Regions from separate parts of the Homo sapiens genome. Here all the other regions are linked to region 1. The links come from fine-mapping of genetic effects on gene expression. A gene starts in region 1. Each other region holds a variant in brackets. All regions are shown on one strand. Distances are between the middles of the regions.

Region 1 (2,760 bases):
AACATGCTTCCATTTCATCCCGACAGCTTCAGGATGGCGCAGTCTCCAATGGGACAAACCCAGGGAGGCGTGACTCGGCCACAGCGCGTTCTGGGAAGGCCGCTTAACCAATCAGCGCCTTGGTTTCCAGGGGTCAGGTCTGCATAAAAATGCTGCCCTTTCCGTTCCTATAGTGGTGTGATGCAGAAACGCCGCGACAGAATGGGGTTATCTACATTAACAGCGCGCGGCCTTCCAGGCTCCTAAATGGACTTTCACAAACACCCTCCATCAGGCCAGGCCCGCGGGTGTGACCCGGGCAGACACAGGCTGCCCCCACACTTCTGGACTCTGTGTCAGGGCGCACACGCTGACAGCATGGCTAACTTTCTGGGGGCCGGGGACATCTGGGAGAAGCAGAATGAAACAGAAGATCGATTCCCTAGGTCCTAGGAGATGAAACGCCACCTTTGCGGGTTCGCGAGTCCTTAGGATCAAAGCTGGGCTCCCCAGGGCCGGGGCCGCTCGCCCCACATCCTCATTCCAGTCCCCATCCCCACCCTATCCCCGACTCTGCCCCAGGCCCAGGCGGGAACCACGCACCGAAACGAGCGGGACGCGCAGGCGATCCCCTTGCAGCCGGTTGAAGGCGGGGAACGTGCTCCAGGCGAGGAACCCGTCGCTTTCGGGTCCGAGCAGGGCCACGAGCAGCACCTGGTGTTGGAAGCGCACGGTCGGCTGCTCCTCGTAGCTGCTCCGCTTCAGCCAAAACCCTGAGTTAAAGAGGGCGGTAGGGAGGCGGTTAGGGAGGCCGGCCCTGGCCGAGCGCGCCCGGGGAGCCTCGTGGCACAGCGGCCGGGGCAGGCTCACCGTGGCTCCGGAAGGCCACCAGCAGCGGCGGGATGTACGTGAGCGCAGCGGCCAGCAGCAGGAACAGCGCGGCTTTGGAGCAGAGCCCCGCGCGGTAACTGCGCTCGACCGGGTGAGAGAAGAGCTCATAGAGCGCCATGAGCACCGCTCGCAGGCACTCCGCGAGCCGGGGGACCAAGTTTGGCTTCTCCTGGTTGCCATCGCCTCGGTCTCCACGGCAACCGACGGCTCACAGAAAGGAGCCAATAGCAAGGCCGCACCGAAAGGAGCCAGTGGCGGGGGCGGGGTTAGCGGGCGTGGCGCTGCCGGGGACGGTCGGCCTAGCTTTTCGAGCTGTGTACGTTTGCGTAAAGGCTGGGCGGCGATAGAACGTTTCCGTGGACCAGAGTCGTGGCTGTTGTCTGTGTTAACATTTGTGTAAAATAAGATGCCCATAAAAGTTGACTTGAACACTGAGGAGGAAGAACTAAATATTTAAATTTCAACTGACATGGACACAAACAATGGTCACCAAGTCCCTAAACAGGTTGTGGGAGCCCCTTGAGGCGTTCATCCAGCGCTGTTTCGGAGAAATCTCTATTTCAGTCTACTCCTATACGTCAGTTATTGAAAAACAACAATCGCAAAAACAAGTTGACCTTTTTGTGTTCCTTGAGCCCAGTCGCAAAGGGCCCTCGTGACTGGGCCTCATGCTAGACAACATGTTACAAAAAGATCTAGGGTCCCAGACCACGCCAAAAAGCTTCATGAGACCTCTCCTCGTCTGTGCACTGACGAGTGGCCGGCTCTGGAGCCCAGGTCGTTGCTTCCCAGTCTGGAGGTGAATCCTCCATAGTCTGGTGAGTGTAAATATATATATATATATGTCTTTTTCCTTCTCCTCTTCCCATTGCAATTTGCTTATTATATCAATCTGCTTATTATATTAATTTGCTTATTATAATATCTGCATTGCCATTTACGTGGGATAAAGCTTGCTTACCCTTAAAGGTACTGTGTGTGTGCCTTTTCTTCTCCCCTAGCGCGTCTCCCGCACAGAACGAACACCTGCTTTTGTGTCATCTGTTAACCCCCAGTGTGGTTCCTACTGAAGTCCAGTCAGTCACAAGCCTGGCCGTGGTCCTGGACCTGGTCCTGGGCTGAGATCAAAGCCAGGTGCTTTTGCCCCCAGATTTTCTGTTGCTTCCACTATGCTCCCATGCAAGACAGACACGGAAACACAAATCCCCTGGCTCTTCCACGGATAGAGTGGAATTACTACAAAGCTCTGATGCACTTCGTTAACCCTGTGTTGGGTACAGCTCAGCCGCGAGTTTTACAGGAATATATGGTCCTCCCCAAAGATCACTGGCTTATTGCTTAATTGAATGCCTACACCCCCCCGCCACCACCCCCAACCAATATTTCTAACATGGTAGAAGGACTTTTTAAAAAAATCTATGGTCCACAGCCAATTTCTTCATCAAATGGCCCTGAATGGCTGGGCACGGTGGCTCACGCCTGTAATCCCAACACTTTGGGAGGCCAAGGTGGGCGGATCACCTGAGGTCAGGGGTTCAAGACCAGCCTGGCCAACATGGTGAACCCTCATCTCTACTAAAAATACAAAAATTAGCCAGGCATGGTGATGGGCACCTGTAATCCCAGCTACTCTGGAGGCTGAGGCAGGAGAATCGCTTGAACCCGGGAGGCACAGATTACAGTGAGCGGAGATCACACATTGGACTCCAGCCTGGGTGGCAGCGAGACTCCATCTCAAACAACAACAACAACAACAAAAAGGTCCTGAGTGGCTGAGCACAGTGGCTCATGCCTGTAGGTCCAGCTACTCGGGAGGCCTGGGCAGGAGGAAGGCTTGAGCCCAGGAGGCTGCAGTGAGCCATGAATGCACTACTGCACTCCAGGCTGGGA
Region 2 (2,760 bases), 160 kb after region 1:
CAAATGAAAGCAGGAATTGGCTAACTCTAGGCCTATGGGCCAGATCCACCCAGTTGCCTGTTTTTGTAAATAGAGTTTTATCGAAACACCATCACATTCATTCACTTATGCATTGCCTATGGCTGTTTTCAAGCCACAACAGCAGGCTTAGTAGTTGAGGCTCCAATGTGTCTAGGGTCGACACAGCCTAACATATTTACTATCTGGATTTGAGAATTTATATTTAAAATTAGAACTAATTGCAGAAGAATATTTTATTATTTCATCACCGTAAGGTAAAACAGGAAAAACTGATCTATACTGATTGGAAGGCAGGACATGGGCTACTGAGGGAATGGAATCGGGAGCCTGAAAGTGAGCGAACAGAGGCCTCTGGGTGCCACTAAGTTTTCTTTATCTGAGTGCTGAGTTCCACGAGTGTAGTTGATTTGTGAACATTAGTTAAATTAAACATGTATAAATATTTGCTATTTTTGGCATGCATGCTATATTTCAATTAAATATTTCTTTTGAGCCAAGATGGCCAAATAGGAACAGCTACAGTCTACAGCTCCCAGCGTGAGCAACACAGAAGACAGGTGATTTCTCCATTTCCAACTGAGGTACTGGGTTCATCTCACTGGGGAGTGTTGGGAAGTGGGTACAGGAGAGTGGGTGCAGGGCACCGAGCATGAGCCGAAGCAGGGTGAGGCATCGCCTCACTTGGGAAGTGCAAGGGGTCAGGGAATTCCCTTTCCTAGTGAAAGAAAGGGGTGACAGACGGCACCAGGAAAATCAGGTCACTCCCACCCTAATACTGCGCTTTTCCAATGGTCTTAGCAAACGGCACACCAGGAGATTATATGCTGCGCCTGGCTCAGAGGGTCCTACGCCCATGGAGCCTCGCTCACTGCTAGCACAGCAGTGTGAGATCAAACTGCAGGGTGGCAGCGAGCCTGGAGGAGGGGCGCCTGTCATTACCCAGGCTTGCTTAGGTAAAAAAAGCTGCCAGGAAGCTCAAACTGGGTGGAGCCCACTGCAGCTCAAGGAGGCCTGCCTGCCTCTCTAGACTCCACCTCCGGGGGCAGGGAACAGCCAAATAAAAGGCAGCAGAATCATCTTCAGACTTAAATGTCCCTGTCTGACAGCTTTGAAGAGAGTAGCGGTTCTCCCAGCACGCAGCTGGAGATCTGAGAACGGACAGACTGCCTCCTCAAGTGGGTCCCTGACCCCTGAGTAGCCTAACTGGGAGACACCCCCCAGTAGGGGCAGACTGACACCTCACACGGCCGGGTACTCCTCCGAGACAAAACTTCTAGAGGAACGATCAGGCAGCAACATTTGCTGCTCACCAATATCTGCTGTTCTGCAGCCTCTGCTGCTGATACCCAGTCAAACAGGGTCTGGAGTGGACCTCCGGCAAACTCCAACAGACCTGTAGCTGAGGGTCCTGACTGTTAGAAGGAAAACTAACAAACAGAAAGGACATCCACACTAAAACCCCATCTGTATGTCACCATCATCAAAGACCAAAGGTAGACAAAACCACAAAGATGGGGAAAAAACAGAACAGAAAAACCGGAAACTCTAAAAATCAGAGTGCCTCTCCTCCTCCAAAGGAACGCAGCTCCTCACCAGCAATTGAACAAAGCTGGATGGAGAATGACTTTGACGAGTTGAGAGAAGAAGGCTTCAGAC[G/A]ATCAAACTACTCCGAGCTAAAGGAGGAAGTTTGAACCCATGGCAAAGAAGTTAAAAACCTTGAAAAAAAATTAGATGAATGGCTAAGTAGAATAACCAAAGCAGGGAAGTCGTTAAAGGACCTGATGGAGCTGAAAACCACGGCACGAGAACTACATGACGAATGCACAAGCCTCAGTAGCCGATTCGATCAACTGGAAGAAAGGGCATCAGTGATGGAAGATCAAAGGAATGCAATGAAGCAAGAAGAGAAGTTTAGAGAAAAAAGAATAAAAAGAAACAAACAAAGCCTCCAAGAAATATGGGACTATGTGAAAAGACCAAATCTACGTCTGATTGGTGGACCTGAAAGTCACAGAGAGAATGGAACCAAGTTGGAAAACACTCTGCAGGATATTATCCAGGAGAACTTCCCCAATCTAGCAAGGCAGGCCAACATTCACATTCAGGAAATACAGAGAACACCACAAAGATACTCCTCAAGAAGAGCAACTCCAAGACACATAATTGTCAGATTCACCAAAGTTGAAATGAAGGAAAAAATGGGAAGGGCAGCCAGAGAGAAAGGTCGGGTTACCCACAAAGGGAAGCCTATCAGACTAACAGCGGATCTCTCAGCAGAAACTCTACAAGCCAGAAGAGAGTGGGGGCCAATATTCAATATTCTTAAAGAAAAGAATTTTCAACCAGAATTTCATATCCAGCCAAACTAAGCTTCATAAGTGAAGGAGAAATAAAATCCTCTACAGACAAGCAAATGCTGAGAGATTTTGTCACCACCAGGCCTGCCCTAAAAGAGCTCCTGAAGGAAGCACTTAACATGGAAAGGAAAAACTGGTACCAGCCACTGCAAAAACATGCTCAATTGTTAAGACCATCGAGGCTAGGAAGAAACTGCATGAACTAAGGGGCAAAATAACCAGCTAACATCATAATGACAGGATCAAATTCACACATAACAATATTAACCTTAAATGTAAATGGGCTAAATGCTCCAATTAAAAGACACACACTGGCAAATTGGATAAAGAGTCAAGACCCATCAGTGTGCTGTATTCAGGAAACACATCTCACGTGCAGAGA
Region 3 (2,760 bases), 25 kb before region 1:
CGGGCCAGGCTGAATGGCTGCCGCGTGCACAGTGTCTTGCATACGTCCTGCTTGCTGATGGTGCCTCGGGGAAAGGCGCTGCAGGCGGGCGGCGAGCACAGCGCGCGGCTCGTTGCCCAGTTGAAAAAGGCGGACAGGTTTCGGCTCTGTGGCATGTAGGCATCAAACACGTCCATGTCGCACAAAAAGATAGAGCGCATCAGGTCGCGCACGGCCATGTGCAGCGTTGCCGCGCTGCCCTGCGACAGGGTGGTCCACACATGCCACGCGGGCTCCATCAGGTAGAAGACGTCGGGGTGCTGGCTGAAGAGCTGGCCCAAGAAGGATGAGCCCGAGCGCCACGAGGACAGCACCAGCACGTGCACACGATCCTCGCCGCCGGCTGGGGATGAGGGCCCTGGCCGGGAGATGATGAAGAGCAGGAGGCAGGTGGTCTGTGCCAGGAGGAGCACTGTCACTGTCTTGCTGGAGAACCGTGGCAGCCACATGCGGGCGGCTGGGGGCCTTCGGGTGGAGTGGGCAACTTTAGGGACCCGGGCCCTCATGCCCATCCCATGCCCCAATTACTGCCCAGTGCCCTCAGGGATCAGCCCTCAGATTCGGCTACCCTACCCATTGGACTTCCCAAGACTCCCAAGGTCTCAGTCGAGCACTTTCCCAGGAATACGGAGTCAAGACATAGGCCAGAATATAGTCTGTGCTCACAGCAGAAGTCCAGTTGCAGAATAATGTGGGATATCATCAAACTGTCTACCTACCCACCCACCCACCTACTTACATACCTACAGGCTATCTATCTGTAGAGAGAAATACTATGTTTCAAAGAGAACTCCTGTCTTTTGCTTCAGGATACCTCTTAGAGAGACCCTTTTAGGTTGTGGAGCTAAAAGGGCTTGATGGGGGCTTCGGTGGATGTCAGAGCACCACCAGGCTCGCCGAGGTTGAATCCTGGCTCTGCCACTTCCTAGCCTATGATCTTGCTTATGAAGATCACTTAAATCTCTCTGTGACGGATCACTTTACCCGTGTGTGAAAGAGGGATAATTCCGGTACCTGGCTCACAGGATCTGGGGGGATTGGGGGGTTATTATAATGAAGATGGGGGAAGGGAACACGCAGTCATGCCCATAACTGAGGATTGCACCTTTTACAAGGTGTGCTTCTGTATTATATAATTTTTTTAACAGGCAGGTATAAAACTTTTGTCAGCCAGGCGCGGTGGCTCACGCCTGTAATCCCAGCATTATGGGAGGCCGAGGCGGGCGGATCACGAGGTCAGGAGATCGAGACCATCCTGGCTAACACAGTGAGACCCCATCTCTACTAAAAATACAAAAAATTAGCCAGGCGTGATGGTGGGCGCCTGTAGTCCCAGCTACTCGGGAGGCTGAGGCAGGAGAATGGCGTGAACCTGGGAGGCAGAGGTGGCAGTGAGCTGAGATTGCGCCACTGCACTGCAGCCTGAGTGAAGAGTGAGACTCCGTTTCAAAAAAAAAAAAAAAAACAACAA[A/C]AAAAAAACTTTTGTCATTAAAGATAAACAAGTAAATAAAGTGGACAAAGAACAGCAACTGTTGTCATCACTGGTGGGGAGTGAAGTGCTGTAGGCAGCATGGGCTCCAGAAGGAGGGTGTCCTGGAGCCCTGTGGGTTTGCAAGAAGATCAGTTGATGGGGAGCTGGGATGGAGCCCAAGAAGCAGAGAGGTGAGAGCAGAGTACTGTCCTGGCCAGCTGAGGGGACTCACCACCGTCCAGGGCTGCTGGGAGAGCTGCAACGCTGATCACAAATCCATGGGAGATGTCTCGACATCTGGCAAAGCAGGAAGGAGAGGAGATCAGAGCCCTACAGAGAGACAGCCCTGTACATAGAAAGCTCCCCAGGGTGGGAACAGAGCTGTCCTGCCTGCCTTTTGCTTCAGGATAACTCGTAGAGAGACCCTTTTGGGTTGTGGAGCTAAAGGGCTTGATGACGGTTTAGGCGGATGTCACACCACCACCAGGCTTGCTGAGGTTGAATAAGTCTGAGTAGGGCATTTCTCCAAATGGCTGGGAACTGGCGGGGTCTCCTGATGGATGGAAGCGAGAGAGCTGGCTCCAAATCCCAGCACTGCCAATGGGGAGCTATGAGACCTGGGGCAAGTGACTTAACTTCTCTGAGGCTCAATTTGCACCTCTGTAGAATGGGATTTGCAATATTTAACCTCTTAGAGCTGTTGTGATGGATGCTGCTGCAAACACCTATGAGGGGAGGGCCTGGGGAAGCATTCCTTACACACATGCCCCTGTTACTGTTACTGTCCCTGTGCTGAGCTACATCTGGAGAGAAAGAACCCCCTCCACCTGGTGAGTCTCCCCACAGAGGAGACACCCACAGGCCACCTACCCTTCCAATCCCTGTATCTCCCAGGCCATCCTCTGGCGTCCAACCACCCTGAGCCTTTAGTGGACCTTAAGAATGTCACGCATTTCTCACAGGGTGGAAGGAACACTGAGCCAGCCTCCCGCATTCCAAGGTCCTAAAGTGTTCTTCTGTTTGCACCTGTTGCATCTGCAATGATCTCAAGGCTGGGTGACTTTGGAAGGGAGGAGCCTGGAAGTTTTCTCCTTGCTCCTGCATCCTTTGCTCCTTGCCTGCCCCCTTCCCCTGTCCACACTGCCCACTGAGAGAAGCCAGGGTCTAACTTGTGAGCAGATCTCACCTCTGCTCCTTCGCCTCAATGCGGGGACAGGAGTGAGCGGAGGATGCCCAACACCTCTGTCACC

Which allele goes with the higher level. Alleles are on the strand shown, and positions count from the first base shown. SD is a standard deviation of normalised expression in the study named. Not every link is listed here.
With allele A in place of C in region 3, the expression in iPS cells of the gene that starts at base 1,031 in region 1 is higher (large effect, 0.88 SD a copy in PhLiPS).

What was found.
Region 2: its variant is fine-mapped to the expression of TMEM231 in whole blood (TOPMed, PIP above 0.99).
Region 3: its variant is fine-mapped to the expression of TMEM231 in iPS cells (PhLiPS, PIP 0.95).

The regions. Positions count from the first base shown.
Region 1 is chr16:75,555,222-75,557,981 of GRCh38, forward strand. It overlaps TMEM231 (transmembrane protein 231), which reads right to left and starts at 1,031. Exons shown (of 7, transcript NM_001077418.3): 1 at 850-1,031; 2 at 583-752. The coding sequence starts at 988. RefSeq lists silencers at 722-801, 1,092-1,201 and enhancers at 1,242-1,321, 1,352-1,461.
Region 2 is chr16:75,718,614-75,721,373 of GRCh38, forward strand. The region is part of intron 1 of CPHXL (cytoplasmic polyadenylated homeobox like); the gene reads right to left. Among named protein-coding and RNA genes, the nearest start is that of CPHXL, 6.5 kb to the right of the region's middle. The variant G/A (reference allele first, on the strand shown) is at 1,678.
Region 3 is chr16:75,529,834-75,532,593 of GRCh38, forward strand. CHST5 (carbohydrate sulfotransferase 5) reads right to left here. Exons shown (of 4, transcript NM_024533.5): 4 at 1-1,807. The coding sequence starts at 551. Among named protein-coding and RNA genes, the nearest start is that of CHST5, 4.9 kb to the right of the region's middle. The variant A/C (reference allele first, on the strand shown) is at 1,511.